Regions from separate parts of the Homo sapiens genome. Here region 1 is linked to region 2. Evidence: fine-mapped expression QTL. A gene starts in region 2. The other region holds a variant in brackets. All regions are shown on one strand. Distances are from middle to middle.

The links. PIP is the estimated chance that this variant, and not a neighbour inherited with it, causes the effect. A credible set is the group of variants that fine-mapping cannot tell apart.
Region 1: its variant is the best candidate, but not a certain one, in a credible set for the expression of FRAS1 in fibroblasts (GTEx, PIP 0.84).

The regions. Positions count from the first base shown.
Region 1 is chr4:78,480,264-78,485,646 of GRCh38, forward strand. FRAS1 (Fraser extracellular matrix complex subunit 1) reads left to right here. Exons shown (of 74, transcript NM_025074.7): 57 at 1,541-1,701; 58 at 2,125-2,272. Among named protein-coding and RNA genes, the nearest start is that of ANXA3, 69 kb to the right of the region's middle. RefSeq lists an enhancer at 833-2,032. The variant G/T (reference allele first, on the strand shown) is at 2,535.
Region 2 is chr4:78,054,206-78,059,588 of GRCh38, forward strand. It overlaps FRAS1 (Fraser extracellular matrix complex subunit 1), which reads left to right and starts at 3,118. Exons shown (of 74, transcript NM_025074.7): 1 at 3,118-3,880. The coding sequence starts at 3,805. RefSeq lists an enhancer at 1,704-2,675.

The DNA.
Region 1 (5,383 bases), 430 kb after region 2:
ACCATCCTTCTACAACATGGATGGAAGTGGAGGTCCTTATGCTAAGTGAAATAAGCCAGGCACAGAAAGACAAACTTCACATGTTCTCACTTATTTGTGGGAGCTAAAGGTTAAAATCATTGAGGTCATGGAGATAGAGTGTAGAAGGTTTTACTCTGGTTCTTGATGGCAGGCAGGGCTGTGGCATAGAGCCTAGAGCTTCATGGGCTGACCTCTGTGGTCCAGAGGGAGGGCCTGGCACTGAGCATCTGGGCTTGTGAAAGGGGAGAATGTGATATATTGAGGATGGAAGTGAAGTATTTAGTGTACTGCTAGCTCCTGAACACTCTCCAAAGTTTCAGTGTCTTCATACAGTGAAACTTTCTCATTCATGTAAGAGCCCAAAGCGATCAGTGGGCAGGTCACTTTCACATGGTATTTCAGAGACTCAGGCTCCTTTCCCACTTGTGGCTCCACAAAGGTCTTGAAGTCTTATGTATGCTGCAGGCAGATATACTGCTGGCAGAGGGGCAACAGCTGTGCTGAGTGTCTCCTGATCTGGGCCAGATCAAGGCCTTTCACATCTATGAAGGGATTTGGAGGAGCACTGGGAACAGGTATTTTTGAGCACTTACCGAATGCCGGGCACCATACCGTGCATGTTCCATGCATTCTCACTTAATATTCTATGGAAGAGAGAACATTATATAAAAGAGCAAATGGAGGCCTGGATAGGTTAAGTCAGTCATCAATGATTAAGCAGCTAATAAAATGGCAAGGCTAGATTCAAAGCCAGACCTTTCTACTATAGCATGTTTCTTTTCCCATACAGCAAATGCCCAGCCATAACTACATTGCATCTCACAGCATGTTGGCTAGAAAATGTGGTGATTGAAAATTGTAGGGTTTTCATGAAGCTTTTCTCTGCCCTTGATTGTGAAAATAGCTAAATATCCTTAGGACACTACAAAGCATGATGTCACAGTGGACAGGAAGATGAGCTTCATTCCTAAGATGAGTAATAAGCACATGCGGTTTAAGTCATGACATGTGCTTGGGTAAAACAGAGAAATCAACTCAGTTAGGAACATTTAATTAGAAACATTCAGCTTCAGGCTCCATAGAGTCCCCTAGCTGGGTCCTCCTTAATTGACTATTTTCTGACACATCCCTGAGGCCCCAGGCTCTAAGTTTCTTCTCCCTAAATAGGCTTGAGATGTTTTGCAATAGACCCTTCTCTCCTTAAGTGCATTGTTCTCCTGTGAGCAGTCTCCCTTGTGAAGCCACAACAGCCTTCTCCCCTAAGGGCTCTCTCCAGCACCATCTCCATGAAGCCCTTCTCTAGGTCTCCTCTTGATCCTAGTGTCAGTGAAAAGACAGGTAGTGACACCTCTAGGCCTTCACCTCAGATGGGCCATAGGAGCATCACTGAAGCTAGATTAGAAAAGCTCAAAGGGCTAAAAGCTGCCACTATTGCAGTGAGGGAGAACATCATTCTGAAAACCTCGCTGATTTTCTGGCTCAAAGTTGACCATTAAAATCTCTATGAATCTTAATTCAGGCACAGTAAAGATTCCAGTTATCCGCCATGGTACTGACCTCTCTACTTTCGCATCTGTCTGGTGTGCAACGCGGCCCTCAGACCCAGCTTCTGCCACACCAGGAGTTGACTACGTTCCCAGCTCTCGGAAGGTGGAATTTGGGCCTGGTGTCATTGAACAGGTGCGTTTACAGCAGTCGAGACTCCACAAAGTTGACAGGTCGGTTTGTGAATGTTGTCTTTAGTTTGCTTCCCAAGCTCTCTAAACTCCCCTGGCGATATTCCTATCTTTCCTTTCTTTAAAAACACACATACATAAACAAGAGAGTTAACTTAGGAGGGGATCTTCTAAAAACTCTCCTAGTGACATTTTTAGCATCAAATATCCAGCCTTACAGATTCAGGATATAAACTATACTCATTTGATATAAACATCTAAAAACAAACTCCGAGTGGCATGTAATAAAGAGATCATCATGTTATGGATTAGAAAATCTTACTTTAAAACCACCAAAGACAGGCAAGTTGTGACCTTTGCCCTAGTCAAGGTAAATGGGTGTTAGATGGTGGGTCCTCTGTCAAGTTTGCTTTGGTTTCTCTTCTAGTATTGCACCTTGACTATCTTGGATGACACTCAGTATCCGGTAATTGAAGGACTGGAGACATTTGTGGTTTTCCTCAGCTCAGCACAAGGAGCCGAACTGACCAAACCCTTCCAGGCAGTCATTGCAATTAATGACACATTCCAAGATGGTAAGAGATTGGGGATGCCAGCTGGTAGGTCCAAATATATTTCTATTTTTTCTTTAACGTCCACATATGTGACATTGGAACTCATTCACATTTTCATTCAAGAAATATGTGTGTGTAGATGTGTATACGTGAGCATTTGCACTTTTACATAGCAGAGTATGTAGATGTGAGAGAGAACCATTGATGTCTCCGGTACTCTGCCAGACACAAAGAGATGTATAAGCCTTGGGCCCTGTCCTCAAGAAGCTCAGTGTCTCCCTGT[G/T]GAATCAGACCCTTAAAGAGAGAAATTGGAATAAATCATGATAAATGACCTAATAGTACTATACATCCAGCACTATGGGAGCAGAGGGAACTGAACAGGAACTACAAGTGGGGGAAATTATAGATTTCACCAAGGAGATTATATTTAAGCAGAGTCTTCAGGTGTGATAGGAGTCTATCTAATGCATAATAAAGGAAAACCTATTTCAAGTGGAGACATATAGTAAATACAATGTATAATGTGTTGAAAGATCCACATTTGGGGAACAGACCCTTACTTTTGCTTTGAGCATGGGAGGGGGTGAATAGAAGAATGGAATGGAAAGACAGATTGGAGTCAAGTTCTGAGAGGCATTGTGATCCAGCCTAAGGACTCTATAAGCAAAGGGTAGCAGTGGATGCTTATAAGCAGAGGAGTGATGTGCTTTTTTATTTTAGAAAGCGAATATTGGCAGTATTGTAGGTGATGTGCAGGGATGAATAGAGGCAGGTATATGAAGAAAATATCAGTCACTGCTGAAGATGTAACCTAAGTAGCATGAGGAAAAACAGGAAAGGATGGTTACTTCTCAGAAGAATTGACGAAATTAGAATTGTCAGAACTTCAGAATCCACTGTTTGGATACTAGGGTTTGGTGGAGAAGATCAAGTGAAACCTTCCACCTAAAGCAGCAGGACCCTCATTAGCATTCCCAGAGATTGGCCATAGAGCCCATGATTAAACTCCTAGCAGCTGAGAAGTCCTCAAAAGAGGAGCAAGAAGCCAAGTCGGATAATCTTTGATGTTTTTATTTATTCTTAAATCATTTATTTCATGTATATAGTAGTAAACAATTCAAATGGCAAAAAGCGTATACTATGAAAATTAAATCTTCTTTCTACCCCTATCTCCCAGTCTCCCAGTTCTCCTCACTGGAGACAACAATTTTAACCAGTTTTTTGTGTGTTTATCCTTCAGGAGAAAAAAAAAACTCTCTCTCTCTCTCTATATATATATATATAAAATTATGTATGTGTGATACACACACACACACATACAACAAACATACACATACTTGCATGCATCCAAAATGATAGTAATTTGTTTTAGAGCCAGGTTTATGAAGGTGCAACTTGCATAAATGAAAGTCCATCGTCCTTAGTGTACAGTTCTATGAGTTTTGACAAATGTATACAGTGATATGCTCACTACCACAATCAAGATGTTGAACAGTTCCAACACTCTGCAAAATTATCTCATGTGCCTTTGTCGTCTGTGTCTCCTTAGTCACCAGCCCTGAAAACCACTAATCTGTTTTCTGGCCCTAAAGTTGTGCCTTTTCCAAAATTTCATAAAAATGGAATCATATAATATCTATGATTTTGCATCTGGTTTCTTTCACTAGAAAATGCATTTGAGACTCATTCATGTTATTGCATATGTGAGTAGTTCATTCCATTTATTGAGATTAGCTTTTCATTGTATGGATTTACCACCATTTGTTTACTCACCTATTGAATGACATTTGGGTTGTTCAAGGTTTTGGTGTTTAAATTGCGTTGTTTTCCTACTTGTATTGCATTGTTGTAGATTCTGGACAGAGATTTATATTTTGCAAATATTTTATCCAAGTCTGTTTTTTGTCTTTTTGTTCTGTAAACAAACATCCTAAGAGTAATCATTTTTCATTTTGAAGCAGCCTCATTTATCATTTTTCTATTATGGATCATATTTTTAGTGTTGTATCTAAGAAATCTTTGCCTAACCCAAGGTAACAAAGATGTTCTCCTATTTTCCTACAGAAGTTTTATAGCCTTAAGTTTTACATTTAGGTTTGTGATTCACAAAACGGTAACTTTTACACCATGAACAAGATTATGACACTTATATTATCTCATGTTGCATGTTACTTCCAAGTTTACAAAGCAATCCATTAAGCCTTATCTCACTTGCTCATAACCCCGTGCTCTTTCTTCTGTTTCTATTTAGTGGATAAGGAAACTGAGAATCAGAGGAAATAGGTCACCCAATGTCTAGTATCTAGAGGAACCAGCATGCATTCTAGGACTTTTGACCCCAAGTTCATCCTCCTTGCATTATATACTACATGGTTTTAATTGGTGTAGAAGTAGAATCAGTGGCAATTTTATTTCTTAGTAAAGAGGAAGATAAAACAGAAAGAAGAAAATTCAGCTATACGTTTTATTCTTGAAATTGTTTCTTATTCTTTTGCATGAAATGACCATTAATTTCCCTCTGATGAAGTGGAAAGTGAATACAAAGTTGAAGTCCTGAAATATAATCCTAGCCCCACCACTTCCTAGGTCTTTGGCCTTAGGCCAGAAGCTTAAGGTTACTAAGCCTCATTTTGCTCATCTATAAATAATGAAAATAACTACCTTACAAGATTGTTGTGAGGATTAAATTAGATAAAATATGTGAAAATGCCTGCTGTAATACCTGGCACACAGTAAATTTTATTACATGTTGATTTCTTTTCTTCCTGACACACCTGGCATTTATCACTCTTACCAACAAGACTCCAGTAACATATAGAGTCCTCACTGATCAACACACAAAATTATATTTAAATATTTTTCAGTATTTTATTGATGAGCATTGGGTTTGTCAACTTAGGAAACTGATATGTTAAGCAAAAATTTTCTTTCAGAAAAGCTACAGCTTTTCTTTTTCTTTCAGAGAAGCTACAGCAATATGTGTTTAATCAATAACTTATCCCAGAGAAAGAAATCCCAAAACCTATTTCAGTAACTCAGCATAGCATTCAGTACTTACTTCTTCTGGTTATCTTTCTTCCTAGTAATAACGAACTTTTGTTGAGTCCATTCAGTGTGAACATTCTAGGGTAG
Region 2 (5,383 bases):
TTGTCAGGTACTAGCTGTCTGACTTTGGATAGATTACTTAACTCTCTGAACATCTGTTATTTCACCTGTCAATGGAAATAATAATAGCACCTATCTCACGTGGTTATTGGAGGATTACATGAGAAAGTGTACAGTGTTAGGCACAAAATATTCAATATGTGTTATCATTGTTATTATTATCGTTTACAGCAGGAGTTGATAAATAAATTCCCCAAAATGGGCAGCAACAAGGACAGGGAGTTGTGAAGAGATGACAGCAGGGCTGATCCAAGGAGATATTGTGGAACATATTAACAAAAGTTGTGGAATCTGGACTTGTAACTAAAGAGGACTGAAGATATAGACCCAAATATCTCTGGCTAGTGAATTGCCAACTTCCTATGAGGAAGCATGAAGCTGTCATTTGTGGAGGTTAACTTATAGAGATAAGCTAGTTATGATTAGGTGCATCTCCATAAACATGCTTACTAAATTTTCATCATAATGAAATATGTTAGGTTTATATAATCTCTTTTTCCAACATTTCAGTTGAAGTGAACATAGGTGTTAGATATGCCTAATATTACAGAAATATTGGTTGACCCTTTGCTCTTCCAAGTGATCTTAGGGCAAGGACTCAGGCTGCCTTCTCCCTTGACTACTTAGGGCAGAGGGAGGACTATGTGAGTGGGCCAGCATGTGCCCCTGTGGTGGACTGGTGGTCAAGGGGGGATGTTATATATAAATCCAATAAATACAGCATATGATTAATTCAGGGTAACTTGGTAGTGCTATTCTCCCTTTATTTATTGCTTTTCCTTTTTGAAAAGTAGCATATTTGCAATTAGCAAGTATAACAGATATCTTATTGAGACCTGTGCCATAATTGTATGATTTTTGGAGTGCAGTGATTATTTATAGGCGTAATCAGGGTGGACCATGGCCTCCAACTTCCAAGCTCAAGTGATCCTCCCGCCTCAGCCTCTGGAGTAGCTGAGACTACAGGTGCACCCCACTGCACCCAGCTTGATTTTTAAAATAAAATCAAATTGTTGATTTTTGAGAGAACAAACGGTTTAAGTTACTCCCATTCAGTAGCAGCTGCAAAATTAGGAGGGGGTTTAAGGGTGACCGTCTGGTTGTCAGAGTGTGTTGGAAGCTGAGTTTGAATTTGCACATCACTTTACATGGATTGAGAAGATGTCCTCCACCCCCCCGCCCCGCCCGACCTTTATTTTTGAGACAGAGTCTCGCTGTGTCACCCAGGCTGGAGTGCAGTGGTGAGATCTCTGCTCACTGCAACCTCTGCCTCCCGGGTTCAAGTGATTCTCGTGCCTCAGCCTTCAGAGTACCTGGGATTAAAGGCATGTGCCACCACACGTGGCTAATTTTTGTATTTTTAGTGGAAATGGGGTTTCACCATGTTGGCCAGGCTGGTCTCGAACTCCTGACGTCGTGATCTGCCTGCCTTGGCCTCCCAAAGTGCTGGGATTACAGGCGTGAGCCACCGCACAGGCCCTACTTTCTAAATAAAAAGGGAGGGGTCTTTTTTTGGGAGGAGGTTAAGGCCCGCAGCTCCCCTTGATATGGCCGCTGCTCTCAGGCACTTAATCCATTATTTCAACAAATGTTTAAAGAGCACCTACTATGTGCTTCAATTATACAAAGATGATACAACCTCTGTCCCTAGAATGACCACAGCCCAACAGAGAGACTGAGGGCGAAATGTGCAAACCCTGGGTCCTCCAAATACTTAAGATTCAGAGCCAGGTTGTCAGAGGTTCTCCTTTGTTCTGGCTGAATAGTAACACTGACAGGGACCTGCCAGTTTCAAGTTATTCCAGTTATTCGGAAAAGTGAATTGTTCCAAGTGGCGTCAGTGCACGTTAGAACGTGGGCCCGCGTCATGGTGTTCGTGAAGACTGGAAACAAGTGGGACCCCCGCCAGCACAGCTCATGCAACTGCTTCCCCTCCAACAGTTTCGCCCATCCCGACTCAATTGAGGGACCCGAGACGTTTCTTCTCTGGGCCAATCAGAACCCAGTCAGCATCTCTCTGATGCAACTGTTCCCTTATAAAACGATTAAACGTGGACCAGCTATTTTTATTCGGTCCTATAAAAATAGCTGCCGTCAGTCAGTCCTGGCGGGGAATCAAGGCCTCTGCTCTTCAAGTGCGCGCCCCAGTCGGCCGTGTCCTGATGTTACTTTCCCAGCCATTGGCATCTGGGGGCGCAGCTGGACCCACAGCTCCCAGACCGCGTTGTGTTCCACTGACAGAGTCTCCTAGGGAAAGGGAAAGGTGCATTTGCTCTCAGGCTCCGCCTAGGACACACACACCAAGATCTTCCCGGGCTGCTGGTAAAAGCCAGGATGCAACAGCCTGAGGGTCCCAGAGCGAGGAAGAAGGATCAATCAGGTCCCCCGGACGCACTTAGTTCAGCAGGAGTGGCGGGCTGTGGGGGTGGGAGGTAGCCCCAGGGCCTTTGATGTGGGCACACGCTCCCCCAGCCCGCCGAATCGGTTCCTCCCCTAACAAGGGATGTGGACACGGTTCATCTGCCTTCCGGTGTGCCTGAGCAAGAACTGTGCAACCTATCTCCACCCCCTCCGTCCCCGGTATGAGCACTTTTGATTCCTCCCCAGACAAAGCCAATCTGAACTCCAGCAGAATGAATAAAGGGATCAGGTTGCTCTCCCGGCCTCCCCTCACCTCCCTCCTCGCTTCTCCCTTTCCCCACGTGACTCTCTGGAATTTCGCCAAAGCTCCGAGTCTCTGGGTCCATTTTCACACCGAGCAAAGCAGAGAGGAAGGAGGCAAGGGAGACTAGAGGAAGGCTGAACGTGTGTCCTTTAAACACGGGGTCCAGACCCGGCGTATTTTGGGCGTTTCCAGGCTCTCTCGCCAGAGTGGCCTTGAGTTTGGGGGTCTTTTCCAGCCTCGCTAGCTTTTTCCTCCGTGCAATTAAAATTATGGCTCTTCTTCCACTCCCGTAATCATTGCACCTCTACCCTGCAGACCTCCTCCGGGGTGTTCAGCGCGGAGGTGGGTGTTGGTGTGCAGCAAGCCGCGTCCCCGCAGCCCTCCTCACCCAGGCGAGGGGCGGGGACGAGAAAGTAGCAGCAGCGCCCCCCAGTCTTTCCTCTGAAGCTTCCGAACAGTCTGCTTCAGGGAGCGCAGCCTGAGGCGGTGTGGTGCGGTGCGGCTGCAGGGCGGGCGAGTCCCCGGAGCTGCCCTCAGCGCTGCACAGTTTCCAGCGAGCGGACCCCGGCAGATGAGGTCTGCCGAGCCGGGTGGCTCGACCAAGGAGTGGGTGTGGGTGGGTCTTTCGGGGCTCCCGGCGACCCGCGGTGCCGACGCAACGCCGACGTATGGTGCCAAGCGAACTTTAAAAAGCTGCTTCGGACAAACCAGAGCCAGGATTTCCACTGTCGGGGACCCGGGATCGGAAGGGTCTAGCCCGAGGGAAATGCTGGAAGATCCCATCGGCCAGTGACCAGCAACTTTCCGGCGAGATTTTGACGCGGAGAACTGTGCTCTGCCTCCTCTTATTCTCCCAAAGCTCACGTTGGCGTCCTGCCTTGCGGGGGAACTCGGCGCGCTCTCTGCCTGAGCAGCGAGTGAATTGAACCCCAGCCCGCTCCGGCGCCTCCGGGCTGATGAGTGTCGCTCTCCGCCCGTCCATCTCTTTTTCCCGGAGGTAAAGGCCCGCGGTCCCCCACCTTCAGTGCGCCCGGGTTCCAAGCGCCGGAGCCAGCGTTTTGGCGGAGCCGCTTCTTGGATGCTGAAGGCTGGGCTCCTCCATCGTGGGTGCCGAGGCGGCGATGGGTGTCCTCAAAGTGTGGCTCGGGCTGGCCCTAGCGTTGGCGGAATTTGCAGTATTGCCTCATCATTCCGAAGGTGAGAGAGCGGTGCCGCGTGTGTGTGTGTGTGTGCGTGTGCGTGTGTGTGTGTATGTGTGAGTGATCGTGCAGTTTAAAAATCTCAGCAGGTTTTATGGTATTTCGGTGAGGTGGAAGTTTTTCTGGGAAGGGTGAGGTGGAAGTGAAACTGGAATAGGCTTTTTCTGATAAGATTCCTACTCCTGATTGTTTTGTATTCGGATTACACCCCCGAAACGGCCTCCCTCTCTGCCCTAAGTGCTTTTGGGTGGGTGGGTGGCCGATGGAGGTGACATCTCTGAAACTGATCCTTTTTCTTTCCACCACCTACCTTTCCCCGAAGGGAAAGCAACTGCATGGAGCACAGGTGAGGAGCGAACAATTGCTCTTACCTGTTTAAAAATACTTCTGTTCCTAAGAAACATACAGTCTTTCATCTTAAAGCCCCATCGCTCTCCCGCCCTCCTTACCTCAGTTAGTCTCCCCCTAAAGTCCAGTTAGGATTTTATAACTAACTGGTTGGAGCGTGTTCTGGTCGTGGGCAGTTCAGTTGCACTGAAAGAAATCTCTCCAGTACGGAGAAGCACGAACCAGCCTGCTTCCCAGAACAAAAGTGGTTAATAAGAGTTTAGGTTCATTCTTTTACTTCACCCTCCGCCTCCTGGTTTTCCTCCGAGGCTCCAAGCTACCTGTAAAACCCCGGAGCCGCAGGAGAGAAAAGGAAGCCGTGAGACTAGTTGTCGCCATGATATCAAATGCAATCCGGGCTCAGCCAAATAAATGAGTCAATAAGTAAATCAAGAGTTTGGGGTCATGGGATGCCGGGCCTGGGGACGCGAGGCGCTGTGAGCTCCCTCCTGCTCCGAGGAGCCAGGGAAGTCGCCCCGCCAGTGCTTAGGGAGGGGGAAGGGAGCCGGCGGGCTGGGAGGAAGACGGCTTAATCCACAGCGCCTGGCTCTCGGCTTCCCCTCCCGGCTCCATTCATTATTCATCCAGCTGCGGGAAGAAGAGTTCACCTGCCCAGCCGCAAACCAGAGCCGCGGCTGGGCGGCGGCGGCGGGCGCAGGGCGGGCCGCCTTCTCCGCCCTGGTGCCTAGGAAGGGGCGCGGGGCGGCTCCCGGGAGTCGAGCTCTGGCGCAGGACTGGGGGCTGCGGGAGGCCCGGGGAGGACAAAGCTCTGCCTCGGGTCGACCTCCAGTCACTGGAGCAGCTGCCTTTTCTTTGCTGGCTTCCCAAGAGAAAGGCCTTGGGAATCCACGCACAAGGGTGGGGGACTTTCCCGTGGGTCCAGGTGCTGCCTTCTGCACTCTTCCGGGATGTGTGTCAAGTGTGTATAATCTCCGCGAAAGGCACATCTGGGGCCTGTGCAGCCTTCTCCCAACAGTGCAAGTCCTGTAGAAATATAACTTTATTGTTTATGTGCGTGTGGGCGCGTACTTTGGAAAAAAAAAAAAAAAGCTTGTAGGGCTTGATTATAACAATAAACCAGATGAGAGAGTCACCCCAGGCCACCCAAACCTGA